Linked DNA regions of Homo sapiens: all the other regions are linked to region 1. The links come from fine-mapping of genetic effects on gene expression. A gene starts in region 1. Each other region holds a variant in brackets. All regions are shown on one strand. Distances are between the middles of the regions. Region 1 holds the start of CD177 (CD177 molecule). Region 2 holds the start of LINC03078 (long intergenic non-protein coding RNA 3078). Region 3 has its middle 9.9 kb from the start of LINC03078. Region 4 has its middle 25 kb from the start of PSG9. Region 5 has its middle 16 kb from the start of PSG9. Region 6 overlaps TEX101 (testis expressed 101).

Region 1 (5,299 bases):
TTTTTGTGATGGAGCCTGGCTCTGTCACCCAGGCTGGAGTGCAGTGGTGTGATCTCGGCTCACTGCTGCAACCTCCACCACCAGCTTCAAGTGATTCTCCTGCCTCAGCCTCCCAAGTAGCTGGGATTACAGTTGTGTGTCACCATGTCCAGCTAATTTTTATATTTTTAGTAGAGATGGGGTTTCACCATGTTGGCCAGGCTGGTCTTGAACTCCTGACTTAAAGTGATCCTTCCAAAGTGCTGGGATTACAGGTGTGAGTCACTGTGCCCAGCCCCCTTAAGAATAATCTTAAGAAGGTTCTTGCTGAAGCACTTAGTGGTGAGAGTTACAATGTCTACTCCTTGTTTTTAAAATTTAAGAATATTTTAAAAGCATATGTTGTGTGTGTATAAACAGATACAATAAAATGTGAAGAGTGGGTGAATCCAGTGAAGGGGATACTTGTGTTCACTGTACTATCCTTGCAACTTTTCTGCCGGTTTGAAATTTTTCCGTCTTTTTTTTTGAGATGGAGTCTTACTCTGTTGCCCAGGCTGGAGTGCAGTGGTGCGATCTCGGCTCACTGCAACCTCTGCCTCTTGGGTTCAAGCGATTCTCCTGTCTCAGTCTCCGGAGTAGCTGGGACTACAGGTGGCTGCCACTACACCGGGCTAATTTTTGTATTTTTTTTTTAAGTAGAGATGGGGTTTCACCGTGTTGTCCAGGTTGGTTTCAATCTCCTGACTTCAATAGATCCACCCGCCTTGGCTTCCCAAAGTGCTAGGATGACTGGTATGAGTCACCGCTCCCAGCCTGAAATTTTTCAAAATGAAAACACCGCAGGTCAGGAGTTTGAGACCAGCCTGAACAACATAGTGAAACCCTGTCTCTATTGAAAATACAAAAATTAACCAGACATGGTGGTGTGCACCTGTAGTCCCAGTTACTCGGGAGGCTGAGGTGGGAGAGTTGCTTGAGTCCAGGAGATGGAGGCTGTAGTGACCTGCAGTGAGCTACAACTGCACCACTGTACTCCAGCATAGGTGAGAGCAAGACTCTGTTTCTAAAAAAAAAAAAAAATTACTGGGCATGTACTGTATGCCATGTAGGTGGTGGAGACATAGCAGGAGATCAGACAAACACTTCCCTGTCTGTGTGGCAAATATTAAACTTGCAATAAACTTGCAAAGACAAATAAAGATAAAATTTATAGAGATGTCAAAAATAAACATATAATTGCAAGTCACATTCATTTCTCTTTCTCTGCTATTCCTGCTCTCGCCTTCCCTCTTCTGCTTCTCCTCTCTCCGTCACAGACACCCACAACGTCCCTCTGCAGTCACTGACAGATACCCCAGGTTCCTTCCTGTCTTCCTCCCCGCCACCCCAGTGTGTTACAGCTGATTTGTACAGCCCTGGACAAGCCCATGGTTAAATAGCTAGGGATTTCATCAGCCTGGTTGGCAAACTGTAGGTAGCTTAAAATCAGACATGCTATGAGTATTTACACCAGAGAAATAGGCCAACACTACGAGGCAGGATTTGTGGGTATTGTTTTTCAGAAAACTTGGTTTTTCAGCACAACACTGCTCTCCCATCGGCTTCCAGCAAATAAATGTTGCATTTTTCAGATATATCCTAATTCTTTCATAGATATTCAGTCTCTACTCCACCTCTGGCCAAGCCTTTCCTGGTGGTAGGAAACTGGGGACTTGAGTCCTATGTTGTACTGTGAGGGTAGAGAATAGAAGAGAAAGCATGAGAGAAAAGCATGAAAAGAAGAATCAAAAGAAAGCAATATAAGAAGGAAAGAGAAAGAACAGAGAAGTGGGAAGACAGTGGAGGGTAGAAACTAGGACCGGAAGACATGGGGACAAGCTGATGCCCACTGCACAACGTCCTCACAGGTAGTTGGGCCATTTCCCCATCTGGGGTACAGAGGTGGCCAGGGAGCCCATGAGAAATGAGGAAACTGCCTTCCCAAACTACTGGAGAAAGAGGGTGGGGGTGGTGATCCACATAGCTGGGCTCAGGAGGAAAGAGGGCTGGGAGTCTGGACCGGGGGAACCTCGGGTCAAGATGCCACAGTTTCTAACTATGGAGGGCCTGGGGGCCTGGACTCCTGGGTCTGAGGGAGGAGGGCCTGGGGGTCTGGACTCCTGGGTCGGAGGGAGGAGGGCCTCGGGGCCTGGACTCCTGGGTCTGAGAGAGGGAGGCCTGGGGCCTGGACTCCTGGGTCTGAGGGAGGAGGGGCTGGGGGGCTGGACTCCTGGGTCTGAGGGAGGAGGCACTGGGGGCCTGGACTCCTGGGTCTGAGGGAGGAGGGACTGGGGGCCTGGACTCCTGGGTCTGAGGGCGGAGGGGCTGGGGGTCTGGACTCCTGGGTCTGAAGGAGGAGGGGCTGAGGGGCTGGGGGTCCTGGACCCTCCATCTGAGGGAGGAGGGGCTGGATGCCTGGACCCGAAGGTCTGAGGAAGAAAGGGGGTCCCTGATAGGCCACTGCGGCCATTGAGACTTGGGGTGGGGCCCAAGCCTCCATTTTGCAAGGCCCTCCCCTCCCCACCCTTTTCTGGGCTGGCTGCTTAAGGGCTGGTATAAAGGACTTGTTTCCTGCTGAAAAAGCAGAAAGAGATTACCAGCCACAGACGGGTCATGAGCGCGGTATTACTGCTGGCCCTCCTGGGGTTCATCCTCCCACTGCCAGGTGAGTGATGAGCCCAGCCTGGAGGAGATTCCCTGGAGGCCGGGCAAGGGAACCCTGCTGAGATGGATTTGCTCTTGCCACTCCAGGAGTGCAGGCGCTGCTCTGCCAGTTTGGGACAGTTCAGCATGTGTGGAAGGTGTCCGACCTGCCCCGGCAATGGACCCCTAAGAACACCAGCTGCGACAGCGGCTTGGGGTGCCAGGACACGTTGATGCTCATTGAGAGCGGTGAGAAGGCCCTGGCGTGCAGAGACCCCGCCCTGTCCCCTCAGTCCCTTGATCCCTGTGCAGGGACCCGGGAGCCACCCCTCCGGGGGATCGACTCCTAGGGTCCCGGTGATCCCCTTTCCAGCCTCTCAGCCTACGCCGTGTAGCAGCGTCTCCCTCCAGGACCCTGGAGGCCTGACCTCCATCCTCGCTTGCCTCCCTCTTTCGGTCCAGGACCCCAAGTGAGCCTGGTGCTCTCCAAGGGCTGCACGGAGGCCAAGGACCAGGAGCCCCGCGTCACTGAGCACCGGATGGGCCCCGGCCTCTCCCTGATCTCCTACACCTTCGTGTGCCGCCAGGAGGACTTCTGCAACAACCTCGTTAACTCCCTCCCGCTTTGGGCCCCACAGCCCCCAGCAGGTGCCTGCGGGAGGGTCGGGAGGAGAGGGAGGGGCTGCTAGAAGGGGATCCGCTGAGCACAGAGGGGCTGTTACGGAGTCCCTCCCACCCTCGCTCGCTATCCCGACCCTCGCTGGCTCCATCCCTCCCCTGACTGCTCCCTGACCATCGCCCCGCCCCGCTCCCTTTCCATCCCTCCCCACTCACTCCCGATCCCTCCCACCGACCTGCCACCCGGGAATCCCCGCACCCCTCCTCTTCTAAGAGCAAACAGGACGGATTTCTGATATGAAATCACCATTAACTGGGTTATCCTGCATTCTTTTTTTATTCTGTTGCGTTTGGTTCAAGAAGTTCTCCTGCAGGGTTTTTGCTATTTCCTCTTCCTAAGGGAGACTGAACTGTAACTTTCCACTTTCCTTGTCTGGTGTTATAAAGAGTCTAGGGAGATATTTTGCGCTTCTTTTATTGGAACAGCTTGTGAACACAGAAGTCTCCTGTTCTTGGAGGTTTAGTAGCGCTTGCAGGTGAAGGCACTGGCTCGTTCCAGGGCACCCCCTCATTCCCTTGACCAATGAGTCTGCTTCTGTGTCTCCCCTCGGAAGGCCAGACTTTGTTGAAAGGTTCAGACTTGACCATGTCTGAGTCTACATTTGGCCTCAGCAGGCCCCTCCTCCACCCTGCCCACCCCCCACCCCCACTTGCCACCCAAGACACCCCCCCTTTTCTTTTCTTTTTTTTTTTTTTTTTTTTTTTTTCTGAGAAAGCGTCTCGCTGTGTCGACCAGGCTGGAGTGCAGTGGCGCAATCTCGGCTCACTGCAACCTCCGACTCCCGGGTTCAAGCGATTCTCCTGCGTCAGCCTCCCACGTAGCAGGGACTAGAGGAGCCTGCCACCACGCCCGGCTAATTTTTGTATTTTTAGTAGAGACAGGGTTTCACTATGTTGCCCAGGCTGGTCTTGAACTCCTGACCTCGTGATCCACCTGCCTCAGCCTCCCAAAGTGCTGGGATTACAGGTGTGAGTCACCACACCCAGCCAAGACCACTTTCTGTACCCAGCCCTGGGTGCCTCTACCCAGACCTCCTGTTCATTCTCCCTTCCTCTTTTATGGATTACACTTCTTTATTTTCCCACATCCAGATCCCATGATGGGAGCTGCAGAAGGCCCCTTTGGGAAGGCTGAGCAGGTTGACTCTTGAGGCCAGCAAAAGTGGGGTGCAGAGAAGGTATCTGATCAAATCCAGTGCCCTCTCAGTGCCCCCTCACTCTGTCTGTCACTTTCCTAGACCCAGGATCCTTGAGGTGCCCAGTCTGCTTGTCTATGGAAGGCTGTCTGGAGGGGACAACAGAAGAGATCTGCCCCAAGGGGACCACACACTGTTATGATGGCCTCCTCAGGCTCAGGGGAGGTAAGCCTGGGACATCGGGGTCCCTGTGGGGACTGAACTGGAAGGTCTGGGGACTGAGATCTTAGGCTTTGGGGAGTGAGGTGAGCTGAGGCACGGCATGAGACCCAGAGGAGGGTGGGCCTGGCTTCCTGGAGCTATGCCTGCCTCTGAGGGTTGGGTGGTCCTGGAGGCAGCATCACTGACTCTCCCTCGCTCCCCCTTTCTGCAGGAGGCATCTTCTCCAATCTGAGAGTCCAGGGATGCATGCCCCAGCCAGTTTGCAACCTGCTCAATGGGACACAGGAAATTGGGCCCGTGGGTATGACTGAGAACTGCGATATGAAAGGTGAGTCCTGCCCCTAGGCTGTGCCCTGGACTGCAGCCTCGGGGCACGATGACACATGGGGCATCCAGAGCCATCACACCAAAGCCAGCAGGAGGAAGGTCAAGGGTGCAGGGTGGGTTGCTTGGCATGTGGCTTTAGGCAACAGTGAGTGCTGGGGCCCCTGCTGGCTCTCAAGCTGCTGAGAGTGACTGGTTGCTTCAATTTCTGTGTCTCCACACCCCTGGCCTTGGGTAACCCTAGGTCTCCCACTTCCCTAGGCCACCGTAGCCTC
Region 2 (5,299 bases), 22 kb before region 1:
GTCCACGGATAAAACATGTCTCCTTTGTCTCTCCCAGAAAATGAAAGGAATTGAAATTAAGAGAAGGGAGAGATTGAAGAGTGGAAAGGAGAAAGTGGTTGAGGGACAGTGAGAGAGGTTGGAGAAGAGAGTAAGAAGAGACCGCTTACCTGATTTAAAATTGGTGAGATGTTCCTTGGGCTGGTCGGTCTGAGGACCTGAGGTTGTAGGTGGATCTTTCTCACGGAGCAAAGAACAGGAGGACAGGGGATTGATCTCCCAAGGGAGGTCCCCCGATCCGAGTCATGGCACCAAATTTCATGCGCGTCCATGTGAAGAGACCACCAAACAGGCTTTGTGTGAGCAACATGGTTGTTTATTTCACCTGGGTGCAGGTGGGCTGAGTCCGAAAAGAGAGTCAGCAAAGGGAGATAGGGGTGGGGCCGTTTTGTAGGATTTGGGAAGGTAATGGAAAATTACAGTCAAAGGGGGTTGTTCTCTGGTGGGCAGGGGCGGGGGTCACAAGGTGCTCAGTGGGGGAGCTTCTGAGCCAGGAAAAGGAAATTCACAGGGTTAATCACTCAGTTAAGGTGGGGCAAGAACAAATCACAATGGTGGAATGTCATCAGATAAGGCGGGGCAGGGCCTTTTCACTTCTTTTGTGATTCTTCAGTTACTTCAGGCCATCTGGGCATATACATGCAAGTCACAGGGGATGCGATGGCTTGGCTTGGGCTCAGAGGCCTGACATTTCTCACATTTCAAAATGTAACAATGGTTTTCCAACAGTCCATTACCTCTTTCCAGCATTACCAGTAAAGTCCAAAGTCCCAAGTCTCTTCTGAGACAAGGCAAGTCCCTTTTGCCCATGAGCCTGTGAAATCAGAAACAAGTTATTTACTTCCAAGATACAATGGGGATTTAGGCATTGGGTAAATACTCCAATTCCAAAAGGTAGAAATAAGCCAAAAGAAATAAGATACAGGCCCCATGCAAGTCTGACACCCAGCAGCACAGTCTTTAAAACTAAAGCTCCAAAATAATCTCCTTTGACCCCATATCTCACATTTAGGGCACACTGATGCAAGGGTTAGACTCCCAAGGCCCTGAGAAGCTCTACTCCTGTGGCTTTGCAGGGCTCAACCCTCATGGCTACTCTCATGGGCCGGCATTGCGTGCCTATGGCTTTTCCAGGTGCAGTGTGCAAGCTGCCAGTGGCTCTTCCATTCCAGGGTCTTGAGGATGGTGGGTATCTTCTCCCAGCTCCTGGCCCAGTGAAAACTGTGTGGAGACACTTACCCCACATTTTGCTTCTATACTGCCCTAGTAGAGGTTCTTCATGAGGGCACTGCCCTTGTAGCAGGCTTCTGCCTGGACATTCAGGCTTTTCTATATATCCTCTGAAATGTAGGCTCCCAAGCCTAAACTGTTGCACTTTGTGCACCTGCAGGGTTACCACCACATGGAAGCTGCCAAGCTTTATGACATGTACCTTCTGAAGCAACAGGCCGAGCTGTACCTTGACCCTTTTGAGCCATGACTAGAGCAGCTGGGATGCAGTGAGCAGTGTCCTGAGGCTGCACAGGGCAGCAGAGCCCTGGGCCTGGCCCAAAATTTATTCTGTCCTCCTAGGCCTCTGGTCCTGTGATGGGAAGGGCTGCTGCAAAGGTCTCTGAAATGCCTTTAAGGCCTTCTCCTTATTGTTTTGGCTATTAGCACTTCGCTCCCTTTACTTATGCAAATTTCTGCAGCCTGCTTGAATTCCTCCCCTGAACATGGGCTTTTCTTTTCTACCACATGCTTTCCTACACACTTTCAGAAAACTGGATCTCATGAGAACTCACTATCATAATGACAGCACCAAGGAAGATGGTGTTAAACCATGAGAAACATTAGTTTATTTGCCAATGTCTGAGGTAGGCAGGTGAGGACAGCGTTTGTGCTGTTGTGGAAATGTGTTCTGAACAGGGACCTTGAAGTGAGGTGGAGGAGGTGGCCAAGGGAGAGAACACTCAGGACCCCAGATGGCTGCTGCTGCCCAGGACATCCCCGCCTCTTATGGATGTTACCCAGATTGTAGCAGGGAGAGGCTTCCTTTAAGTAGAGAGTAAACGGACTAAGAAAGCGATAGATGGCTCCACATGCCAAGAATGTTCTTTTCCTTTTCTCTCCCTTTTCTCCCTCTCCTTTTCTTTTCATGATATCAAATGCCAGAGAGGCGTGCAGAGCACGTAGGGGGCCTTCCTTGCGTTGCTGCTACCCAAGCCTGCCTGGGCTGTAAGTTCCCCC[G/A]GAGCACCCCTTTGCCCCCACCTGTGGCATGGTCGGCCTCTCTTGGGCCCAAGCCTACCCTCTGCTTCCTCAGAGCGGGTCTCAGACCAGGCAGGGGGTTTCCCAGGAGTCCCTGGGAAGGTTTGTTTTCTGCAGTGCCATGGTGACATAAATGGTTGCTTTCCTTATCATTTTTCAATATTTAGTGGCCACTGATTACTGCCTTAGAAACACGGAGCAATTGAGGTTTTCCTGCCCCTTTCCAATTCCAGTTCAATGTAATTTTCCTGCTGTGACTCCTGTCCCTCTCTGATGTCCTCTCCCCTATTCAGGCTTCAACAGAAGCCTTCTATCCCCTCTCAAAGCTCCGTCCTCCCCAGGAGACACCAGCCAGTCTCTGTGCTTCCTCCTCCCACCCTCTCCCAGGGAGTCCTCCCTCACCTGTGAGCAGGAGCCCCTGCCAGGGGATGCATCCTCTGCGGGGAGGGGCTGAGGGGGGCCTCATGGTCTCTGCTGCCTGCTTCTCTTCTGTGGAGAGGAGCTTAGCTCCAGGATGATCAGAGCTACTGTGACTGCCAGTTCTGCTGTCTTTCCTCCCTCTGTGCTGAGCCTTCTCTCAGGGCAGGAGCACTTCCTAGGGCCAGGGGCAGGGGCGGGACTCTGCCCAGGATGCTTCTCTGTCCCCTCCCCTCTCAGTCCTGCCTTCTGGTTCCTGCTTCCCCTTCCCTTCTGTGTGTGTTTGGTCCTTAGGACCTGCTGAGGCCATTTGCCTTCTTCAGATATGGCTCTCCTTCCACACTTGTCCACACACACACACATATACACACACAGAGACACACACAGAGACACACACAGAGATGCACACACACATACACACAGACATGACACAAACACAGACACACATATATACAGACATACAGGCAAACACATATACACATATATACAGACATAGAGGCAAACACTCACATATACAGACACACACACATATATACTCAGATTCATTGAAACTGAGACACATGTACACATACAGATACACAGAGCTGTCACAGGACAAACTAGCACAGATAAAGACTTCAAGTGGCTTTATTTGCCGTCCTAAAATCGGGCGAGACTTCATCCCATGAGACAATACGTGGGTCAAGGAGCTGAGCAGAAGCGCGGGTTTAATAGAGAGGGGAGGGCTGCGGAAAGCAAACACAAAAAACAGGGCCACTCGGGAAAGGCTCATGGAACAAGGGAGAAATCTCTGATGGGGGAGAATCAGGTTCCTGTTTTAGAAACGGTGAGAGCAGAGGGGAGGTCATTGTCATGCGATTGAAACTGGCCTGTTTGGGAAATCGGCTATTATCTTTCGAAGGTCAGGTAGCAGCTCAGTTTTCCTTTGGTGACCTGTGACATTGGGGAAGGACTGCATTGTGCTGTTGGTCTGGTCTGTTGGGGCCTGGAGCAGGAGCTCAGCCACTGCCATGGCCTCCTCTGACTGCTGTTTAGCAAAGCTCTCAGGTGGGGCTGATGGCGCTGTCCTGGGGAGGCCCTTTCAGTAGCAAGGCTGGTGCAACCCTGTCCCCTGGGAGGATGACCCGCCCTCCCCAGGGCTGACCTCTGCTATCTCCTGGCCTCAGGTCTGTCAGCTCCACACACAGAACCCTGGGGATCCAAACCTGGGGAATTCTTTCTTTGTGATGCAGAAACCCAGCTGGCCAGGTCTCCCCATGCTCTTTAGTGCTTGGGAAGGTGGGATGATGCCCAGCAGGAAGGTGACAGAGGTGGCTCTGGGGGATAGAAAGGAGCTCACTGGGGGATGACTGGGGAGGGACCAGCCCTCTGTCTCCAGTGTCACCAGCCTGGCCTCTGACCCAAAGAGACCCAGGCTGGACTCAGGTGGAGCTCCAGCTCCAGGGTGTGGAGGAAGTTGTCCTGTGTGTCCTGGGTAGAGAGGACTGTGGTGGAGGGAGGTGGGTGGCTCTGAGCCCTGCTGTCCTTGGGGAAGGCTTCATGGAGACCCTCCCTTTCTGTGTCTGTTGGCTGAGCTGTGGCTCAGGGCCTGTCCATGTTCTCCCTATGTTCACCCCTTAACCTTGCAGGTGGTTGGGGGGGCGAGAGAGATAGAAAGACTGTGTCTGTCTGTGTGTGTGTGTGTGTGTGTGTGTGTGTGTGTGTGTGTCCTGTGGCTACCACACCTTCCCCATGGGTGATGCCAGGAGGAAGTGGGGAGCTGCACAAAAACCCTTGGCAGAGCAGGCACCATGAAGGAGCAGGCACATGGCAGGGACCAGAAGGGTCATTTGGGGCAAGGGCTGGAAACCAGGCTCCACCTCTACCTCCTTAGCAAAGCCAGGTTCCTGTCCAGGGGAATCCATTTCCTGAGTGTTATCTGTGTGTGATGTCGCCCCCTGGAGGGCAAGAGGAGACTTGTGGCCTTGTCAGGGGCTGCCCCAGGGACACTGACCAGGGTCTGCATGGTATGAGCTGGCCCTGACCCCTGGGCAGAAGTGGGATCTGACCTCCAGACTGCAGGGTCAGGTCACCCCAGGTCCTGTTCACTGCAGGTCCCCAGGCTGCCCAACTCCATGCAGTGCAAGATGAGCCCAGGGAGAGGACAGGAGTTATCCAGAGAACAGCAGGTCGAGATTCAAGAGAACTGTCCACCAGGAGGATGGGCTGCCTTAGAAGGAGCCACCTGTCCCCAAGGTTTCAAAGGAAGGGCTCAGGGAGGTATCTCTGGGGGCTTTAGAGAGAGGATGCCAGCCTGGGAGGTAGGTGGTCCCCAGAATGCCCTGTGTTCCTCCATCACAGCACTGGGGGTGCTGCCTCCAGGTCAACTGTGTCCCTGTCTGATGCCCACTGTCACTGCTGTTACTCAATATTGTACTGGAGGCATTGGCCAATGAAATTGGGGTACAGATACGAATAGAGATATAAGACTTAGAAAGAGGGAGAATAAGCTATACCAATTCACAACCAATATGTGATTATATATCTAGGAAATTCCAGACATAGTGAAAAACTAATCAATGCAAGAATTTAATAGAAAGATGTAAAGTTAACATAA
Region 3 (5,299 bases), 32 kb before region 1:
ACACTTTCACTGTTGCAGCCTGGATTCAATTACAAGTCAGAGAATGAACCGCTTTTGTTACAGGAAAAAGGTCCCAATCCATGCCCAAAGAGAGGATTCTTGGATCTTGCACGAGAAAGAATTCAGGGCAAGTCTGCAGCGCAAAGTAAAAGCAAGTTTATTAAGAAAGTAAAGTAGTGAAAGTACAGCTACTCCATAGTCACAGTAGGATGTTCTTGAAAGTAAGAGGAGGCACACACCCACCCTAGGTACAGTGCTCATATATATGGGGAGATGTACCCTGCTACAAAGGTTTGTGATAAGGATTAATTTTCTTAATTGTGATATTTTGCAAGAATCTAAGTTATTATCTTTAAAGCAAAATTAGGAATCACTTTGTTTTCCAGATATTGGGATATCTGGACACTCCCAAGTCTGGGTCTGTTTAGTAAATATTATTGATTTGTTCCCTTAACCATAAACATCTAGAGGCTAGGAATGCCTCACTTTCTGGAAATGCAGCCCAACAAGTCCCAGCCTCATTTTCCCAGCCCTCACTCAAGATGGAGTCACTCTACTTCAAATGCCTCTGCCACTTTTGTTTTGATATTTGTGTGATTTTTGAGTTTTTGTGGTACTCATTTACATCTTTGGAGATGTCTCATGCATCCTTGGCTAAGTCACAATTATGGTTAGTGCTTATCAGTTTCAGCTGGGAGGATACTTTTGGTTAAAAAAAAATTCAAAAGCCAGAAATATCAGCTGTTTGTCCTAGCTAAAATCTGATAATAAAAAATCTGAAAGTATTACAGTGGGTAGCTAGTCAGACATCAGCAGGACAGGAGGGAGCCTCCTTCCCCCACACACCAGGAATGTCATGACCATCAGGTGATTGTCAGGTGGTCGTTAACTGTCTCTCTAAAATAATAATGGGTTGTAGCTAGCACCAGGGAAAGGCAGTCTCCCAATAGACAGGAAACACCTGAAACAGTTGATCAGCTCCTTCCTGATAAGTTCTCAGAAGTTGGGTGAGTGGGCTAAAACATGTGCATTAAGAGGCAAAATGGTGGAGTTTAACTGGTTTGTGACCTCCCAGGGACATTTGACTGGAAAGAGAAGAACACCTCAAGTGAGCATGCATACAACTCCAGTAAATACACTGCGCATGTTCACCCCACCCCAAGTGCTAGCAGGCCACTGCACATGCAGACAGCCCACTCCAAAGGGAAAATAAGGGGAGAGGAGATGCAGACCCCAGAATTATGCCAACATACAAAAGCCTAAGTCAGAGGTCAAGCAATGCACTTGATCTCTTGTTGCCTGCTTGGCTTTTTTATTTTTTTATTTTTATTTATTTATTTTTTTGCAACAGAGTCTTGCTCTGTCACCCAGGCTAGAGTGCAGTGGCATGATCTCAGATCACTGCAACCTTCGCCTCCCAGGTTCAAATGATCCTCCCGCCTCAGCCTCCCTAGTAGCTGGGACTACAGGCACATGCTACCACACCCAGCTAATTTTTGTATTTTTGGTAGAGACGAAATTTCACCATGTTGGCCAGGTTGGTCTCAAACTCCTGACCTCAGGTGATCTACCCATCTCGGCCTCCCAAAGTGCTAGGATTACAAGTGTGAGTCACTGTATCCAGCCTGCTTGACTCTCTTTTAATTGTACTTTACTTCCTTTAATTCCTGCCTTAAAGCTTTTAAATAAACTTTTACTCCTGCTCTAACACTTACCTCAGTCCCTTCTTCTGCCTTATGCCTCTTAGTCAAATTACTTCTTCTAAAGAGGCAAGAATTGAGGTTGCTGAAGACGTCTACAGATTCACTGCTGCTAACATGCTTTGGTGTCATTTCTCAGCTATGTTTGGCAGCTAAGAGAAGGATTTCCCAAAACAGCTCTGTGATTAAGAGTCAGCTTAATTAAAAACTGGTATTTAAGCCATATATTTATTAATGGTATTTAAGCCATATAATTATTAATATTTATAATATTAAGCCATGTATATATTAAAATAATATATATATAAAATATTATATATATATAGAATATGTATATACACAGAATATATAAATTCATATTGGATATATATTGAGAAAGGACTTGAATGTATATTGAAGGCTTTTCTGCTTTTCTCTTTTGTATCTTTTTTTTTTTTTGAGACAGGCTGTCACTCTGTCACCCAGGCTTAAGTGCAGTGGCACAATCTCAGCTCGCTGCAACCTCCACCTCCTGGGTTCAAGGGATTCTTGGGCCTCAGCCTCTTGAGCAGCTGAGATTACAGGCACGTGCCACCACACCTGACTGATTTTTGTATTTTTACTAGAGACTGGGTTTCGCCATGTTGCTGGTCTTGAACTCCTGGCCTTGAGTAATCTGCCCGCCTCAGTCTCCCAAAGTGCTGCCATTACAGATGTGAGCCACTGCCTCTGGCCATCTCTTTTGTATCTTTGAAAGATTTTTTTTCAGTTGACTGAAATCTTTTTAAATCATGTGCTTAGTCTGTCTGGTTTTTTTCTTAAAAATTCTTTTTCTGCTTATTTCTCTTTCCATCCTTCCTCTTGCTATTCTTGATGCCACATGAGGGAACCTAAAGAATTTCTGACAGCCTGGAACCCCTTAAGGAAAACAGAAAAGATGCCACAGACTTCCCTATTTAGGAGAAACCACTGTTTTTCCTCATGGAACCCCAAGAGTTGTAAGTAAATGGATTCCTCTCAGGTCTAAAACTCTGCTCTCTTTTCCATTTTCCCTGACCTCTTTGGCTTTTGGGGGCATCAGAGATTACTTTGCACTGTAAAAATGCTTGACCTTATATGTGTGATGGCTGCTGGGTCACTGGTAAGAGCTTTGGTTTTGGAGGTGACTAACAGCGCTCGCAATAAATGATTATTACTTCAGAATGCTACTCATTTCTTTGCAAGTTTAGATAAGAAATACACAGTTTAAATAATTAGAAAAATGCCCTTATAGCAAAGTACACTGTGGAAGTGTTGCATAGTATGGTTCCATTGGCATTTTCCTCTTCTCAGGGACCTGGGATTCAGTGAAATCCTTGATTTATAAAGGTCTGGATGCTGTCCCTTG[C/T]AACTGGGTCTTCTTTTTATGTATTTAAATTATTAGGATCTAAAAGTTGCAAGACTTCGTTGGTCCTCTTCCTTAATGGGCTCTGTCCTGAGCTCAGTGGTCCAGTTGGAAAACAGAGACCAAATTAAAAGCTGCCTATCTAAATAAAATTGGTCTCCTTATAAAATCCTATGGTAAATTTCTGTCATTTTTGTGTTACCTTGGCATCTATTTTTAATCTTCCTTGAACACACACAAATTCCTTCTTGTAAAAGCTTTAGTTCTCTTTCTCTCTGTGCTTTGAGATGTAAATTTGCTACCAATTTTCTCTAAAACTCAATAAAGTCTGGCTTAATTAAATGTTAACCTCTTCCATTTACAAAGGCACAAATTTAATCCAACTGTCTTTTTTAAATACTGAATTTGATCGGTCCTATGCTGAAATCAAAACTCTAAACTCTTTCTGCCTCCCTCTATCTTTATGTGCACATGTGTATGTTATATGCTGTATCACATATATGTCTATGTCCATACATATGATTATATGTTGTTTACATACATGGTATCAAATTAATGTAAAAATAAGTACTCATAAATTAAGTAAATAATCCCAAATGCTTTTCAATACATGTGATTTTAGTAATCTTTGGTAAATAAAGATAGTTTAAAAATTATTGGTAAAATGAAGTAGAAATGTCTTCAGATTTAATTTAGACATTTGTGCCTGGGTCTGTTGGCAGACATTTTTATATTGTATTTACTAGATGTTTTAGGGTCATCATATGGTTGCTTCTGTATATATACATTTTCTTAATTTTTCTGTGACCTTATATCTTTAGATTTGAGCCTTTAGATTCTGAGTTCTAGATGAGCGACCATAGCAAGAACTGGGGACAAAACTCATCCCATCCCACAGCTGTGCCTTTTGGCCATGCTGGAAGAGATTAGATTCTCCAGGTATAATCTTCATAGCTTTGCTGTTTATCTTGGGCTTTACACCTGGTAACTAGTTAGAATTGCTTACTTCCTGTTTTTTCTCTCCTGAAAATAATGCTGTATTTGTTTGTTCTCACATTGCTACTGAGAAATACCTGAGACTGGGTAATTTATAAAGAAAAGAGGTTGAATTGGCTCATGGTTTGGCATGACTCTCACATTTGCTCAGCTTTTGAGGAGGCCTCGGGAAACTTACAATCATTGTGGAAGGCCAAGGCAGAACAAGGCATCTCACAGGTGAGAGCAGGAGGAAGACAGCAAGGGTTACACACTCTTAACCAGATCACCTGAGAACTCACTGTCACTAGGAAAGCACCAAGAGGAATGGTGTTAAACCATGAGAAACCATCCCCATAATCCAATCACCTTCAACCAGGCTCCACCTACAACTTTGGAGATTACAACTTGACATGAGATTTGAGTGGGAATATAAATCCAAAACATATCATTCTTTCCCTGGTTTCTCTCAAATCTCATGTCTTTCTTTTCATACGTGTCCGTGTGAAGAGACCACCAAACAGGCTTTGTGTGAGCAACATGGTTGTTTATTTCACCTGGGTGCAGGTGGGCTGAGTCCGAAAAGAGAGTCAGCAAAGGGAGATAGGGATGGGGCCATTTTATAGGATTTGGGAAGGTAATGGAAAATTACAGTCAAAGGGGGTTGTTCTCTGGTGGGCAGGGGCGGGGGTCACAAGGTGCTCAGTGGGGGAGCTTCTGAGCCAGGAGAAGGAAATTCACAGGGTTAATCACTCAGTTAAGGTGGGGCAGGAACAAATCACAATGGTGGAATGTCATCAGTTAAGGCGGGGCAGGGCCTTTTCACTTCTTTTGTGATTCTTCAGTAACTTCAGGCCATCTGGGCGTATACGTGCAAGTCACAGGGGATGCGATGGCTTGGCTTGGGCTCAGAGGACTGACATTCCTGCCTTCTTATATTAATAAGAAAAATAAAACAAAATAGTGTTGAAGTGTTGGGGTGGCGAAAATTTTTGGGGGGTGGTATGGAGAGAGAATGGGCGATGTTTCTCAGGGCTGCTTCAAGCGGGATTAGGGGCGGGTGGGAACCTAGAGTGGGAGAGATTAAGCTGAAAGGAGATCTTGTGGTAAGGGGTGATATTGTGGGGTTGTTAGAAGAAACATTTGTCATATAGTATGATTGGTGATGGCCTGGATACAGTTTTGTGTGAATTGAAAAACTAAATGGAATAAGAAGGAGAAAAACAGGTATAAAAGGTCTAAGAATTGGGAGGACCTAGGA
Region 4 (5,299 bases), 59 kb before region 1:
GTGTTTAGGATTGAAAAATTTAACAGACAAAAAAGAAGAGAGAGAGAAAAAGCTTTCTCATACTGAGAAAGCAGTCACCCAAGAGAGGGTCTCCAATTTGGGGTGGAATGCAATTGATTTTGTACAGAGACTTAAGGAGGCAGTGATTGATTTACATAGGGTCCAGGGGATTGTTTTGACCAGGTGTTCCATTTACATAGCCTGAAAAAAGACTGGCCCTCCCATCCTATTCTTTTATTATGCAAATGTGGCTTCTACCTGGTGGTCACCATGAAATTAGGAGATATACCTAATGTTAAATGATGAGTTAATGGTTGCAGCACACCAACATGGCACATGTATACATATGTAACTAACTTGCACGTTGTGCACATGTACCCTAAAACTTAAAGTATAATAAAAAAATAAAACCCCATGGTAAATTTCTATTTTTTTGTGTTACCTTGGCATCTATTTTTAATCTTCCTTGAACACACCAAATTTTCTCTTGAAAAAGCTTAAGTTCTCTCTCTCTCTCTTTGCTTTGAGATGTAAATGTGCTATGTATTTTCTCTAAAACTAGGTAAAGCCTTCCTCAGATAAATGTTAACCTTTACCATTTACAAGACAGCAATTTGAATCCAACTATCCTTTAAAATGGTGGGTTTTACTGATCTCATGCCTAAACTCCTAAAATCAAAATTCTAGAATCTTTTTGTCTCTCTCTATCTTTATGTGAACATATATATGTTTCATCACATATATGTATATGTCACACGTTTATATACTGTTTACACATAGTATCAAATTAATGTAAAAATAAATGAGTACTCACAAATTAAGTGAATAAGCCCAAATGCTTTTCTATATATGTGATTTTAGTAACCTTTGGTGAATATAGATAGCTTTAAAATTGTTGGTAAAATAAAGTAGAAATGTCTTCATAATTTAATTTATACACTTTTGCCTATGTCTGTTGGCAGGCAGGTTTATATTGTCTTTACTAGATGTTTTAAGGTCATCAAAGAGTTGCTTGTGTATATATACATTTTCTTAATTTGTCTGTGAGCTTATGTCTTTATATTTGAAGCTTTAAATTCTGAGTTCTAGATGAGTGACCATAGTAAGAACTGGGGACAAAACCCATCCCATCCTCCAGCTGTGCCTTTTGGCCATGCTGGGAGAGGTGGGATTATCCAGGCATTTTCTTCATAGCTCTGTTCTTTGTCTTGGGCTTTGCATCTGGTACATAGTTAGAATGGTTTACTCCCTAGTTTTTTTTCTACTGAAAATAAGGCTGTATAAGTCTGTTTTTACATTGCTACAGACAAATACATGAACCTGAATAATTTATAAAGAAAAGAGTTTGAATGGTCTCATGATTCAGCAGGTTGTAGAGTAAGCATGATTCTGGCATCTGCTCAGATTTTGAGGAGGCCTCAGAAAACTTACAATCATGGAGAAAGCCAGTGGTGGAGGAAGACATCTTATATAATGGGAGCTGGAGGAAGAGAGCAAGGGTTGCACACTGGTAAAGAACCAGATAAAACTCACTGTTGCTATAACAGCACCAAGGAGAATGGTGTTAACATATGAGAAACCACCTCCATGATCCAATCACATCCAACCAGGCTCCACCTCCAACTTTGGAGATTACAATTTGACTTGAGATTTGGGTGGGGGTAAAGGTCCAAAAAAAATTATTCTCTCCATCTTCCCTCCCAAATCTCATGTCTTTCTCACATTTAATAATATAAGAATGGCTTCCCAACAGTCTCTAGAGTCTTAACTCACTCAGCATTAACTCAGAAGTCCAAAATAGCAAGTTTCATCTGCGACAAGGCAAGTTCCTTTTACCTATGAGCCTGTAAATTCAAACACAAGTTAGTTACTTTCAAGACACAATGGAAGTATAGGCATTGGGTAAATACTCCCATTCCAAAGGGAAGAAATAGGCTGAAGGAAATAAGATACAGGCCCCATGAAAGTCTGAAACCTTGCAGCACAGTCTTTAAAACTTAAAGCTCCAAAATAATCTCCTTTGACCCCATATCTCATATTCAGGGCACACTGATGTAAGGCTTAGGCTTCCAAGGTTCTGGACATCACAAGAACATTCCAAGAGAGTCACAAAAGAATTTGTAGTGTGGCTTTTGATGCTAAACAGCATATTAGACCAAGTAAGTCACTGAAGAGAAAAAAGTCAGAGGAGAAGATGGGTGAGGGTGACAGAAATGGAATGGTGAAAGGAAAGGTCTGATAAAAAAGTTTA[C/A]CGGCTGGGCATGGTGGCTCATGCCTGTAATCCCAGCACTTTGGGAGGCCGAGGTGGGCGGATCACAAGGTCAGGAGTTTGAGACCAGCCTGACCAACATGGTGAAACCCCATCTCTACTAAAAATACAAAAATTAGCCAGGCGTGGTGGCACGCACCTGTAATCCCAGCTACTCAGGAGGCTGAAGGCAGGAGAATCACTTGAACTTGGGATGCGGAGGTTGCAGTGAGCTGAGATTGTGACATTGCACTCCAGCCTGGGTGACAGAGTGAGACTCCATCCCAAAAAAAAAACAAAAGTTTACCCAGGGGCTCATCTGGTACCTTGCTCTGTGACTAATATCTTACACATTTTGATTTACTCTTCCACTTTCATTTTCTGATGCGTGAACGGTCACCCTTCTGCTGAAGATGAGAAAAGAGGCTGAGGCAGCTCAAATGAGTGGTCTAGAGTCATCCAGCTACTTCATAGAGCTTGTGTCTTTCACCTTGACGTTTGTGCACAGACAGAAAAGAGACACAGAAGGAAGGCAAAGCAAGTTTTTGTTGTGGGTGATATTTATGAAAGTTACCTGTGTTAGGCAGAATAACGGACTCCTAAAATGTTTGCACCCTAGCTCTGGAACCTGTGCATTTACTTTTCTTGGTAAAAACACAGTGCAGGGGTGATAAAATTAAAATCTTAAGATGTAGATGTTATTCTAGATTATCTGGGTGGGCCCATTGTAATCAGAAGTGTCCTTGTAAGTGACAAAGAAAAGCAGGGGCATCCGTGTGAGAATGATGAGCCTGTGAGACTCCACTGGCCAATGCTGGGTGTGAGCATGCATCAAAAGACAAAATTACAACTAATGTAGTTATAGATTTTATTTTTCATTTATTATTTGAGGCAGCTCTCACTCTACAAATATAGTGACAGCCCTCCCTGGGCTATACAATAACAAAACAGTGGGTTTTGTCAAGTGGGAACCAGTAAACAAAGCCATATAAATAAATAAATTGGTGAACATTAGGGTACTTCAGGTCACTTTTCTGTAAAAGTTAAAGCAGAGGAAACTTTTATTATGCTGTCTCAGGTAGAGTGGAATCTCCTGTTTTCAACAAAAAACAAAGGTCTGTTCTGGTATCTCTTTGCTTCATTAAAATTTCAGTTGTAGACTGTAGCATTTAGCATGAGTGGTTCTATTTTGGAGTCTCTAGGCTCTCACTTAGGTGAGAGTGTGACCAAAATTTAAAGCATTGGCATTCATCTCAGTAACCATCATATTGGGCTTCCATCATTTATAGGTTTATGATGTCTTCCTGATCACACATTTCTTTGAGTTTTTGTCATTTCAGCCAAAGAGAGACCCTTTGGTATTTGTTGATGGCTGCACACAAAACTTTTTAAAAACTTTTGTAGAATTCACCACACCAAATTGTAGAATTTAAAAACCTGTAGAATTTATCACACCAGAGAGGCTACTAGTATGACTATTGGGAGGATAATACCAAAAGTTTGGAGTATGCACTTTAGGCAAGATGCAAACCAAGTAAAATAGAATAGATCAAAGAATGAGCCAGAAGAATCTAGCAATTTTAACCAAGTAGTATGTTTGGTAACTTTTGTGATTGAGTTGTTATGATACTCGATGTATTTGTTTATGTGCAACAATCAGTGTCAGAAACTGCACAGGCTCCTCCCTGTTCAGCTGGTAGGGAACAATTTTATTATGTAGCATTCGATGGCTCATTAAATTAAAACAGGGAATGAGAACGAGTCTGAAAATGTAACTTTAAAAGGGACCACTGTACATTTGAACAAACAATTGTGTTAAAGATGGTGCTAATGTCAGCCATTGGGTGGACTAAATGATATCTTATGTAAAAATTTGAGGGTGACATGATATATCTGTCACTCTGTTACACTACTCTCAGAAGCTACTTCATGTGAAATTCTAATGATACCATCATCCTGCCAAGTGAAAGAGGCAGGCATAAGCATGGACAAATTAAGAGGGGTAAGAGCCTGATTTTGATGTGGAGACTTGTTCTGACAACTTGGGAAAAGCTTTTGACAGTGTGAAGTTGTCAACTTCTTATCCTGGTTTTAAGTTTGAGTGTCTGTAGTTATGGTGTCAAACATATTGGTGAGCTCTGAGTGACTCATACTTCAGACACGAGGGTTTTCCCGTGAAATTTACATTGAGCTTTCCACCTCCAACTTATAGGGCTTCAGGAATAAAGCAGATTTTGTTCTTACTGATTCAATAAGAGAAAATTGGATGGGAGGAACTAGAAGAATTCAGGGTCTAGTTCAGTCTACCGGTGAATAATAAAAACTCAAAAACAATGAACAGAGCTGCAATTTCATAGCAGGTATACTACACTTTTTATTTTCAACGTTATTTTTCTCTCTATAAGAATATCTATTTTTACCAAAGATAATCCCAGTAGGATAAATTTGTTTCCAAAGTAGGTTTAGTCTTATCAAACTTTGCCGGGATTCTTTACATAAGTGCATCAAGAGTAGCATTGGACCACAGAGACTCTTCCTAAAGTTTGCATCGCTAGACGTTTTTATAAGGAGTCTCAGATTAAACTTTTACAAACCTCTTGAGATGAGGAAGCCAAATGAAGGCCATCTTCAGACTTTGCCTGCAGTACTTATGGGTCCATTCTATGTATATTCTCAAATATAACATCTCAGTCAAAGCCTTGGTAATATAACCAATGTTTTGAAATGTGTCCTTTTGTAAAGAGAGAAGATTCTTACTAAACTTGTGCAAATAACTGTATTAGCATAAACATATGAATACTCATGAATAGTTTCCCAATCCTGGGACAGTTAGGTAAAGAGCAAAAATAAATGGGCTTCAATTATTGTTTCCAAAAGTATACTTTACCAAATTGCTTTAGATATAGCTAGCTTAAAAGAAGAAAAATTCCATAAATCTGGAAAAAATCATTTAAAGAATCAGCAAATTTTCAAATAAAAATTATAAAAACATTATCCACATTATCATTTATTTCAATGAAATTATTTTTGTTAAGCTTGGCCTAGGTTGGC
Region 5 (5,299 bases), 68 kb before region 1:
CACCCAGGCACCTTATCCACATGCCTGCCCCACCCCCCGGCTGGAGTCAGGGCAGGGTCGGTCACTGAGCGAGCCCACAGCAATGCAGGGAGCAGAGTCTGAGCTGCTTCTGCTTCACCCAAGGGGCTTCCTCCTGTCATTTGGGGAAAAGTGTGGGCTTGTTTTGAAGCCTCTGATGTTCATCGCAGCTCATGGAGTACACACACACAGACACACACACAAAGGAGACAGAAGGGATGTTTTGGTGACAGAAACAGCTTGACCATGAGGACCCTCCTCTTTCTCCGTCTGTGAAGGCCCTTATACTGCATAGTGCTTGGGGCTGATAAAGCCATTTCCCTACATTTCTCAGGCTGGACCCAAGGTCATCCACCAGAAATCTGGAAAACAAAGGGAAGAGAATCTGTAGATATGAATTGGGAGTGTTCAGGAGAAAAATTTGGGATTTACTTTTGTGCATGGGACACAGGCTGAGAATAAAAATGTTTTCCTGGCTCTTTCTTGGAAAGCCAGATAGGCTTCACCTGAAAGCATATTGCCAATGCTCCAGCGATCCACTTACCAGGGACTGTGATTTTCTTGGTTGCGAAGTTTTTGCCATTAGTGACTGGGTTATGGACATAACACAGATAGTCCCCACTATTCTCTGTAGTGACTTGGGGGATAAAGAGCTCTTGTCCTGTTTGCTGGTTATTCCCATTCAGCAGCCAAGAATACTCTGCTGATGGGTTAGAGCCCATGAGGCAGGAGAGGTTGAGGTTTGACCCTGCATAGTAATAGGTGTCTGAAGAATAAGTTGTGGGTTCATCTGGGCCATCTGGAGCAAAGAGAATAAAGCCACAGGTAATGTTATCAGAGGGAATGGGAAGCTCCTGGTCTGTGAAAGGGACACAATGTTCCTTTTTGCCAAGTCACAACCCTGAAGTCCCAGCCAAATTTCTTCTGTGTTCACTGAACTGGAGGAGTCTAAGACATTCACGTGTTCTCCCATCGCAAGCTATGGAACCAGAGTCCCCTAAGACCGGAGAAGCCCCTCCCTTCCTGGGCCTACCCAGGTTTGCCTGGGACAGAAAGTCATGGCCAGCTTGGGGGTCCAGGGGTAAGTGTCTTCATACTTGGACCTGAGAGGGACTGAGAGGCCTGGCCTCGTGTTATGTGGATTTGGGCTGGCAGCCTTGTCCATGAAGGAAAAGAGGATACTCACAGAGAACATCCAGGTGACTGGGTCACTGTGGCTGGTACTCACTACATTCTTCCTTTGACATTCATAGAGTCCTGTGTCACTCCTTGTGACACTGAGTAGAGCAAGGACCCTGTTATCATTGGACATCTTTAGCCTGGGACTGAGTGTGAGTCTATGACTATTTACCCACCACATGTAGATTGTGCCATGAGTCTCAGGTTCACAGGTTAAGACCACAGCCTCCTCATCCTCCGCGGGGTTGCTGGTGACATAGGGCTTGGGCAGATTCACTGTGCAGATAACAGAGAAGATTCCCCTGTGTGGCACCATTGATTTCTCCACGAGCATTTTCCAATCAGAGTTGACATCTCCCACCTCTCAGCCAATCCAAGTCCTTAAAAGCCCACAGCAGTTCTGTGTGTCAAAAGACAGATGGATGCATGATGATCTGAGGGCTCAGAGACCATGGGGCCACCTGCTCTGTGTGGGAGATGCACAGACTTCTGAACTGTGAATCAAGCAGCAATACTGGTGAACTGTGAATTGAGCAGGGTCATATAATTAGAGTTTGATTAACTTTGTTTAAATTGGGCAGAGTCTAAGTGAGGCAGCAGTGGCTCATGCATCTCCCCACCCGAAGGACCCCACCTTATGACACTGTTGTTATTATGAGTACACAGGTGTGCATGAAACAGGCAGTAAATCAAACAGCACCCACCTGGCCAGCTCCACCTGGTCCTAGGAACCACCAGTATTCCCATTATGTGTATGTTACAGCCTTTGTAGGCTACAAAATATAAAATACAACTTCAGAATATAAAATATGCTATTGTCAATACCAAATATTGAATATGAAGCTGAATATGTTGTTCCACTTTTTCTCACTCTTGTTAAACTTTGCTGTTTCAGTTTTGGAAGTTCCTATTGACACACACTTAAGCTAGAGATTCTTTCCTCAGCTGTGGGCAGCCTACCAGTAAGCCCATGCAGGGCATTCTTTATTTCGCTTAAAGTGTTTTTAATCTCTAGCATTTCTTTTGCTTCTTTCTTAGAATAGCCATCTCTCTGTTTAAATCACCCATCTATTCCTGAAAGGTGTCTCCTTTTTCCATCATAATCCTTAACCAGAGTTGTTTTAAATTTTCAGTCTGATAATTTCAACATCCCTACCACATCTGTGTCTGGTTCTGATCCTTGCTCTGTTTTTCAAACTGCATTATTTTTTTTTTTTTTTTTGCCATAGTCTGTCTTGTATTTTTTTGAAAACCACACATGATGTACTGGGTAAAAGGGACTTGAGTGAGCAGGCATTCAGTGACATGGTGGTGAGTGAGGGGAGGGAAGGGTTCTGTGGTTCTGGATGAGATCTGTGTCCTGGGCTGTGAATGTCACAAGTGCCTCTCAGGTTTTTCTTTCCATTAGGTGGGATATGATGACTTGAGGAGGCTGGAGTTGGATATTTCCCCTCCCCCTGGCCAGTTAAGCTCCCATCAAACCCCAGCTAATTAGGCTGCAGTAAAATAGTTCCTCTTAAATGTAGGTCTTACCAAGAAGAATATAATTCACTGACAACTTTCCAAGTGTTTTTTTCCCTTCTCTCCTACAAGAAGGATGCAGGGATTCTTTTTGGATATTGACTGTGAGAACCTGGTAGAGCTCCAGGAGCTAAGAGTCATAAAACTGTCCCCCTACTCCCAAGGCTAATTCATCCACTGGTGTGTTTATCTCTGCGCTGTGTCCACACTGAGCCTCCAGAATTTCCTCAATTAGAGTTGAGGTTTTCTGACCCCAGCACT[G/T]GTTCCCGCTGAGGTTTCTGTGCCTGTGTTTCTGCTCAGGTACGGTGCGCTGCTCTGTATTTGCCTGTGGGTCTCTTCAATATGTGGGCCAGTTAGCACTGAGACCTTGCTTCTCTGACAAATCTAAATGAGTTGTTGTTTTTTCAGTTTGTTCAGCTTTTTACTTGTTGTTAGAACTGAGTGAAAATTTTTAAGCTACTTACATGCCTGGCGGAAATTCGAAGTCTCTAGGGCATGACTGGAGGATATGAGCCCCACAGCAGGTTGAGGATGGAGTCATGAGTGAAATGGGTGAAATGAGCCCATGGGCTTTGGAAACTGCAGGTCTGTCCTTCAGCGTCTGACCACCTGGTGAGTCTATGTAGAAAGTGAAACCACCTTTGCAAAGCATATGATGGTGAGAGGAAGCTAGCTTGGCTGACCCCATCTCACCTCTAGCCTCAGGCTGGGTGTCCTCTCTGATTCTTGGGCATAGGCCAGGGTAAGCATGGAAGGAATTTATAGTTTAACTTTGACGCAAGGATGATAATAGTCCCTCCCTAAAATTAGCTCCCTCCTTGTCGGGGACTACCGTGGTAAATCTAAGAAAAGACCATGAATTATGCAGGAGCCCAAATTCTGCTAAAATGCAGGCATAGTTTCTATAATCCCTTACTGCTCAGGAGTCATGTGTCCAGAGGTCACAAGATTTGTGACTTTCCTAGTTGCTCCTATAGATAGCAACACTATTGTAGAATCTGAGATTTGTCTTTGGAGATGTTTCTCAGATTTTTGCATTCCGGCAACCAGCTGACCTCATCTAGACTCATGACCAATGGCTCAACCAGTCATGTGGCCCCCCACTCAGAGGCAGATTCAACAAATACAGACCATTTCCCCTACCGGCATCATTTCATCTTTAGCCAGTCAACAGTACTTATTCCTTAGAACTTTGCCCCTCAAAGTTTTTGAAAAACTCTAACCTCTGAGCCACTGGGGAAGCTGATTTGAGTCATAATAAACTTCTATCCTCCTGTTTGGCAGCCTTGGGCTAAGCAAAACCATTTTTTACTACACATCACCTTCACAATAAATTGGCTTTGCCTGCGCAGAGGGCAAGAACCTGTCAGGTGATTATAAGAATGGATGGAGGAGTCACTGATCTCTTTCTGGTGGCCTGTTTCATGAGTCAGCCTCTCAGAGGGAAAGAGCCCTGGACTGCGACACAGTGGAAGCTCATTCTCTTGGTGACCCAGGGACATTGCCTTATTATGGATCCTGGCAGGGGTGGCTGCTTTGGCTGATTTTGGTGCATTTTACATTTCCCAGAAGGCAGGACAGGCCTAAGTGTGAGCAGAAAGGAAACGGGGCAGTCAGCTTTGTTAGAGAGGGTGTCTGGGGAAGTCCTCAGGGTGGAGGAAGCTGTGCAGGACAGGGCTCATCAGGTAGAATGAAAGAGGGATGCACTTTTTTCACTGAACACCTTTCAGACATCTCACCAACTCTGGCCTCACTGGGCTGTGCCTTTCCTCCTGAGCCCTGAGCCCTGATTCCTGGCAGGGAGGGAGAAAGAGAGGAAGGGTGAAGCTGGGATGTGTGCTGTCCAGGTTTCTTCCATCTCTAGAATCTTGACAGCGAGGGACCCTAATGTGTTACCACAGAGGAGACCATGGGAAAAAGCTGTTTCTCAGGGGTGCCTGGCTTATGAAGTGAGGGAAATTCAGACCGAGTTGGACTCCTGAACTACAGGGAACCTGTTCCATGTCAGCAACCAGCTCCTCTAGCTCAGTGTTTCTCTCTGTGGCTAATTCTTTTGTATGGTTTCTGAGCCTATGCTAGAGTCCTCCTCACGATGCATGATGGTCAGACCTGTGTGGGGAGACCTAATGATGGGGTGGGGGTGGTCTTGAGTGTCACACAGAGTGTCCAGGGAACAGGCTTTGTGACTTTCTCTACCCCAGCCCCACAACAAGATCTGGATAGTGGGCTGGGTCAGATAAAGTCAGAATCCATGGGGAAGGGTATGTGTCCTGGCAGTGCCGAGGTTCGTGCCTCCAGGTTAGCTCTGAGTCTCTGCAAATACATTTATGTTGTGCATGTGCTGTTTGCTGGACGGTACTTCTTGAACCTGTCTGCAGATAATGTCATGAGAGGTCTGCATGGAAGTGTATGAGGGCTATGTGATTAGGGTGGGTGTGTTTTACACAGCGGGTTTTTTTTTCACCAAACACTTTTCAAAAAATTGTGGTTGAGTGTGTATATAGAAACACATACATACTTGTATTTGTTAGATGTGAATATATATTCATATAAATTTGACATGTAGATACATATGTCTATA
Region 6 (5,299 bases), 66 kb after region 1:
AATCCACCAAGCTGGCTCACACCACCTGACCTTTGTCCTTGCTGTTTCCTTTACTACCCTCCCCACCCCATTTTCACATAGCTAACCCCTGTTCATCCTCCATGTCAATTCAGGTATCAGCTCTTTGAAAATATTTGCCAAATTCTTTTAGGTAGTTGGGTATTCCTCCATTCCTTTGTCATTATACCTTGAACACAGCAGCTACTGAATTGATTACTTACATGTCTTTCTCCTAGGCAGAGATGCCAGGTGACAGGAACTATGTCCTTTTCATCTCTGTATCTTCACACCTCAGCAGAGTTTGGAAGTCAGATCGATGGAGATTTCACAGCAGAGAACACCAGCTGGGGAAGGATGGGGAGGCTGAAGTAATGGGCCTTGATTAGAGTGGCATCTGCAGGAAAATCTTGGGGAAGAGAAGGCAGCAAGGAGCAACATCTCTGGAGGCAGGACCTGCCCTTAACTGTCTCTCTCATTTCCCTCCAGCTTCCACTGTGTCAACAACCCTCCATTGTCCAACCTGTGTGGCTTTGGGGACCTGTTTCAGTGCTCCTTCTCTTCCCTGTCCCAATGGTACAACTCGATGCTATCAAGGAAAACTTGAGATCACTGGAGGTAAACTGAAATGAACATCTGATAGTTTCAGAGGCTGGAAAACCATTTGAGTGGCTCCCCAGAGATTCTGACACTGAGCTCTCCAGGGATGAGGGGGGACTGGATTCTCCTCTGATGTCCTAAAACATCTCTGTCTCTCCCGATCCTTCCTTGTTCTATAGGTGGCATTGAGTCGTCTGTGGAGGTCAAAGGCTGTACAGCCATGATTGGCTGCAGGCTGATGTCTGGAATCTTAGCAGTAGGACCCATGTTTGTGAGGGAAGCGTGCCCACATCAGCTGCTCACTCAACCTCGAAAGACTGAAAATGGGGCCACCTGTCTTCCCATTCCTGTTTGGGGGTTACAGCTACTGCTGCCATTGCTGCTGCCATCATTTATTCACTTTTCCTAAGAAGGCACTTCTGGGCCTGGGTCTGAGGACATCTTTTTTGACTGGGAGCCTTCTTACTGTTGAGGTTCAACAAGCTGAGGAGTAGATGGGAATTTGAGGGAGAATACAGAGATACTATGAACGTATTTGACATTTTTAATACAATTTCTGCTATAATTTTTGTATGCAGTAGGCGTTACTAATAAACATTTCTGCTGTGATTTGTGTATGTTTCAACACTAGAAGTGGAATTTTAGTGCTGAAAGAGCCTTTAAAATTCATCTTCTCCAAACCACACATTCTCCAGAAAGAGAATCTGAGATCTGGAAAATTTCAGTGAGTTTCTTACATTTAGCTATGGCCAGAGCCAAGGCAAGAACTTACATATTTTGACGTAAAGTCTGATTTTCCTTTCACTCTAATATGCTAGCTCTCCTTGCTAGCAGAAGTAACTAGCATTAGCCTCCTCCAGAACACTCCCAGCCCAATCTTAAGGCTGCTGTTTTGGGGTTCTAAAATTTCCCTAGGAAGTATGGCCAAATGAGAAAAATCAGACTCCAAATTCTCCAGTTATGGGCCTGCTGTAGTGGCTTATACCTGTAATCCCAGCACTTTGAGAGGCAGAGGTGGGAGGATTGCATGAGCCAAGGAGTTTGAGACCAGCCTGGGCAACCTAATGAGACTACATCTCTACAAAAAAAAATAATCCAAAAATTAGCCTGGCATGGTGGCGCTCGCCTGTAGTCCCAGCTACTTGGGAGGCTGAAGTGGGATGATCACTTATGTCCACAAAAAGAGTCAAACTCTGTAAAATATTTGAAAAGATTTATTCTGAACCAAATGTGAGTGACCGTGGTGTGTGACACAGCCCTCAGGAGACCCTGAAAACGTGCCTAAGGTGGTCGGGGCACAGCCTAGTTTTATACCGTTTAGGAAGACATGAGGCAATCAAATACATGTAAGATGTACATTGTTTCAGTCCAGAAAGGCAGGACAACTCCAAGTGGAGGAAACTTCCAGGTTATAGGTAGATTCAAAAATTTTCTGATTGGCCATTGGTTAAAAGAGTTATTATCTAAAGACCTGGAATCAGTAGAAAGGAATGTCTGGGTTACGATGATAAGGGATTGTGGAAACCAAAGTTTTATTACACAAATGAAGCCACCATGTCGCAGGCTTCAGAGAGAATACATTGTAAATGTTTATCAGACTTAAGGTCTGTGTTGATGTTCATGCTGGTCAGCTTTTCCCAAAATCCAAAAGGGAGGCGGGTATATTGAGGCATGGCCGACTCTCCCTTCCCACAGCATGGCCTGAACCAGTTTTTCAGGTTAACTTTGGAAAGCCCTGGCTGAGAGGAGGGGACCCTTCAGATGGTTGGGGGCGGGGAGTGGCTTATAATTTTATTTTTTGTCTGCACTTGAGCTCAGGAGGTTGAGGCTGCAGTGAGCCATGATCATGCCTCTGTACTTCAGACTGGATGACAGAGTGAGATCCTCTATCAAAACAAAAGGCAAATTCTCTCATTACAGTGGGCCCCATTTCTCTGTGTCCTGTCTATCCCTTGCCTGCTCTACATCATTCCTTCCCTTCCCTGGGGCTGACTTAATGACTCTTCAGTGGACTTGGGAGGGAGGGAGGAAGGATTCATTACAGTATGGTGAATGGGGACCTGTGACTACTTGGGCGGCAAAGATTTTTGGAAAATTCTCATGCTTATTATTACTCAAAAATACATAAGCTCTATCTTATTGTAAAAGACTCAAATGATATCAGAGGTGTATAGAGCAAAGTAAAAGGTGGGGAGGGTAAAAGGGAGACAGATATTTTCTTC[TA/T]AAAAAAAAAAAAAAAACAGCTTTACTAAGACTTATCTGACACACAGTAAACGGCACCAGAGGTGGAAGGAGAGACTTTTATTACAAACACTTGTTCCCCTCTCAAAAGACTGGGGAGTTTGGCCATAGTATATATATTCCAACCAAGTTCTTTCTAGAAAGTTCTCTGGTTCTACCCACTGAGAAAGGGAAAAAAAAAATCTTGGGATACCAAACTCACTATGCTAAAGGGAAAAGTCAGGCTTGGGAATGGAGTCACACCAAACTGCCCCTTATTTTGTTCCTAAATATGTAGCTGCAAAGATTTAGAAGTCTACACACCTCCCCAGCAGGCCTTGCTCACAATTTGGCCACAAGGAAATTCCTTGTGGGCCCCAAGATCTTTACCCTAAAACAGTTCTGCTTGAGTTTCACCCTGGCAATGTAATTAACAGTTTATCTTCACAGGTACTGGACAAGACAGGACCAGAAGTCATCCCTCTGCTCACCTGAGACAAATGCCTATTTCACTCTTTCCTCTACTAGATGTTTAGTTTATTTTATGTAAAAATGCAAATCTGGCCAGACACGGTGGCTCACCCCTGTAATCCCAACACTTTGGGAGGCCAAGGCGGGCAGATCACGAGCTCAGGAGTTTGAGACCAGCCTGGCCAACATGGTAAAACCCCATCTCTACTAAAAATACAAAAATTTACCAGGTGTGGTGGCAGATGCCTGTAATCCCAGCTATTCAGGAGGCTGAGGTGGAGAATCACTTGAACCCAGAAGGCAGAGATTGCAGTGAGCTGAGATCCGGCCATCGCACTCCAGCCTGGGTGACAAGAGCAAAACTCCGTCTCAAAAAAAAAAATGCAAATTCACTGAGGGCAAGATGATTGCATAGTTGACTATTCCTCTACCCTCTCCTTTCACATGTAAAATGTAGATTCACTGAAAGCTGATCAAAGCCTCAAAAGAATGCAACCACTTTCCCTTTTTATTTACTCTCCTCCTTTTTTTCTTTCCTCTTTCTCCTATTGCCCACTCCTTTCCCCACTTTAAATATTGAAGTCCCCAGGCCGGGTGTGGTGGCTCATGCTTGTAATCCCAGCACTTTGGGAGGTCGAGGCAGGTGGATCACCTGAGGTCGGAGTTCAAGACCAGCCTGGCCAACATGGTGAAACCCCGTCTCTACTAAAAATATAAAAAATTAGCTAGGCATGGTGGCGGATGCCTGTAATCCCAGCTACTCGGGAGGCTGAGGCAGGAGAACTGCTTGAACCTGGGAGGCAGAGGTTGCAGTGAGCCGAGATCATGCCACTGCACTCCAGCCTGGCAACAAAAGTGAAACTTTCTCTCAAAAAAAAAAAAAAAAAAAAAAAATTGAAGTTCCCAAATCCTCTTTGGAAAAAGCACAGATCACAGATGTTCCTGTGGTTTTGTGTTTCTTTTTCCTGGGCATGTCCTAAACCTTAGCAAAAGAAACTAAAATAATTAAGACTCACCTCAATCATTTTTTTTTTATTTATACCACTCTCCTGCAGTTTAAGCGCTACTCTAGCTAATTCCTTATCTTTGTCCTTAGGTAGCCAGTCCCCATTGTGTCAGTTTGCTAAATCTCCCTAAAGAGGAAGAAGAAGCACACGAAAATCAAATTTTAACTGAGGGCCAGGTGCAGTGGCCCACACCTATAGTGCCAGCACTTTGGGAGGCCAAGGCGAGTGGATTACTTGAGCTCAGGAGTTTGAGACCAGCCTGGGCAACATAGTGAAACCCCGTCTCTACAAAAAATACAAAAATTAACTGGGCATGGTAGTGTGTGCCTGTACATAGTCACAGCTATTTGGGAGGCTGAGACAAGAGGATGGCTTGACCCAGGGAGGTGGACAGTTTGCTGAGGTCACGCCACTGCACTCCTCCTCCCTAGATGATAGAGCATGACCCTGTCTCAGAGACAGAGAGAAAGAAAAAGGAAGAAAGGAAGAAAAAGAAAGAGAGAAAGAAAGGAAGGAAGGAAGGAAGGAAGGAAAGAAAGAAAGAGAAAGAAAGAAAGAAAAGAAAAGAGAGGAAAGAAAGAGAAAGAAAAGGAAGGAGTGACAATGCCAAATTCTGGAGAGGAATTGAGAAACTAGATCTCTCATATATTGCTGTAAGAATGTGAAATGGTGCACCCACTCTGGAAAATAGTTTGGCCATTTATTTAAAAACTAAACACACACTTACCATCTACCCAGCAGTCATACTGCTGAGCGTTCATCCACAAGAAATGGAAACTTAAGTCAACACAAAATCATGTATGTGCTTGTTCTTAGCAGCTTTATTTGTAATAGCCCAAAATGAAAACAACCAAAATGTCTTACAGTAGGTGAATGTTAAACTCCACAATAGAAAGAAACAAACTATTTATACACACAGAAACTTGGCTGGATCTCAATGGCATTATGCTGAGTGGAAAAAAGTCCATCTCAAAGGTCATATATGTACTATATGAATCCATGTA

The links. PIP is the estimated chance that this variant, and not a neighbour inherited with it, causes the effect.
Region 2: its variant is fine-mapped to the expression of CD177 in whole blood (INTERVAL, PIP 0.99).
Region 3: its variant is fine-mapped to the expression of CD177 in whole blood (TOPMed, PIP above 0.99). The same link has a PIP of 0.9 or more in lung.
Region 4: its variant is fine-mapped to the expression of CD177 in whole blood (INTERVAL, PIP 0.98).
Region 5: its variant is fine-mapped to the expression of CD177 in whole blood (INTERVAL, PIP above 0.99). The same link has a PIP of 0.9 or more in gastroesophageal junction and tibial nerve.
Region 6: its variant is fine-mapped to the expression of CD177 in whole blood (INTERVAL, PIP 0.97). The same link has a PIP of 0.9 or more in transverse colon.

The regions. Positions count from the first base shown.
Region 1 is chr19:43,351,081-43,356,379 of GRCh38, forward strand. CD177 (CD177 molecule) reads left to right here and starts at 2,606. Exons shown (of 9, transcript NM_020406.4): 1 at 2,606-2,686; 2 at 2,773-2,913; 3 at 3,127-3,312; 4 at 4,581-4,703; 5 at 4,912-5,028. The coding sequence starts at 2,635.
Region 2 is chr19:43,328,656-43,333,954 of GRCh38, forward strand. LINC03078 (long intergenic non-protein coding RNA 3078) reads right to left here and starts at 2,853. Exons shown (of 2, transcript NR_186343.1): 1 at 2,689-2,853; 2 at 334-853. The variant G/A (reference allele first, on the strand shown) is at 2,269.
Region 3 is chr19:43,318,985-43,324,283 of GRCh38, forward strand. No RefSeq gene overlaps it. Among named protein-coding and RNA genes, the nearest start is that of LINC03078, 9.9 kb to the right of the region's middle. The variant C/T (reference allele first, on the strand shown) is at 3,067.
Region 4 is chr19:43,291,929-43,297,227 of GRCh38, forward strand. No RefSeq gene overlaps it. Among named protein-coding and RNA genes, the nearest start is that of PSG9, 25 kb to the left of the region's middle. The variant C/A (reference allele first, on the strand shown) is at 2,252.
Region 5 is chr19:43,282,874-43,288,172 of GRCh38, forward strand. It overlaps the pseudogene CEACAMP11. Among named protein-coding and RNA genes, the nearest start is that of PSG9, 16 kb to the left of the region's middle. The variant G/T (reference allele first, on the strand shown) is at 2,980.
Region 6 is chr19:43,417,392-43,422,690 of GRCh38, forward strand. It overlaps TEX101 (testis expressed 101), which reads left to right. Exons shown (of 6, transcript NM_001130011.3): 5 at 487-615; 6 at 777-1,206. The coding sequence ends at 1,006. Among named protein-coding and RNA genes, the nearest start is that of TEX101, 5.2 kb to the left of the region's middle. The variant TA/T (reference allele first, on the strand shown) is at 2,820.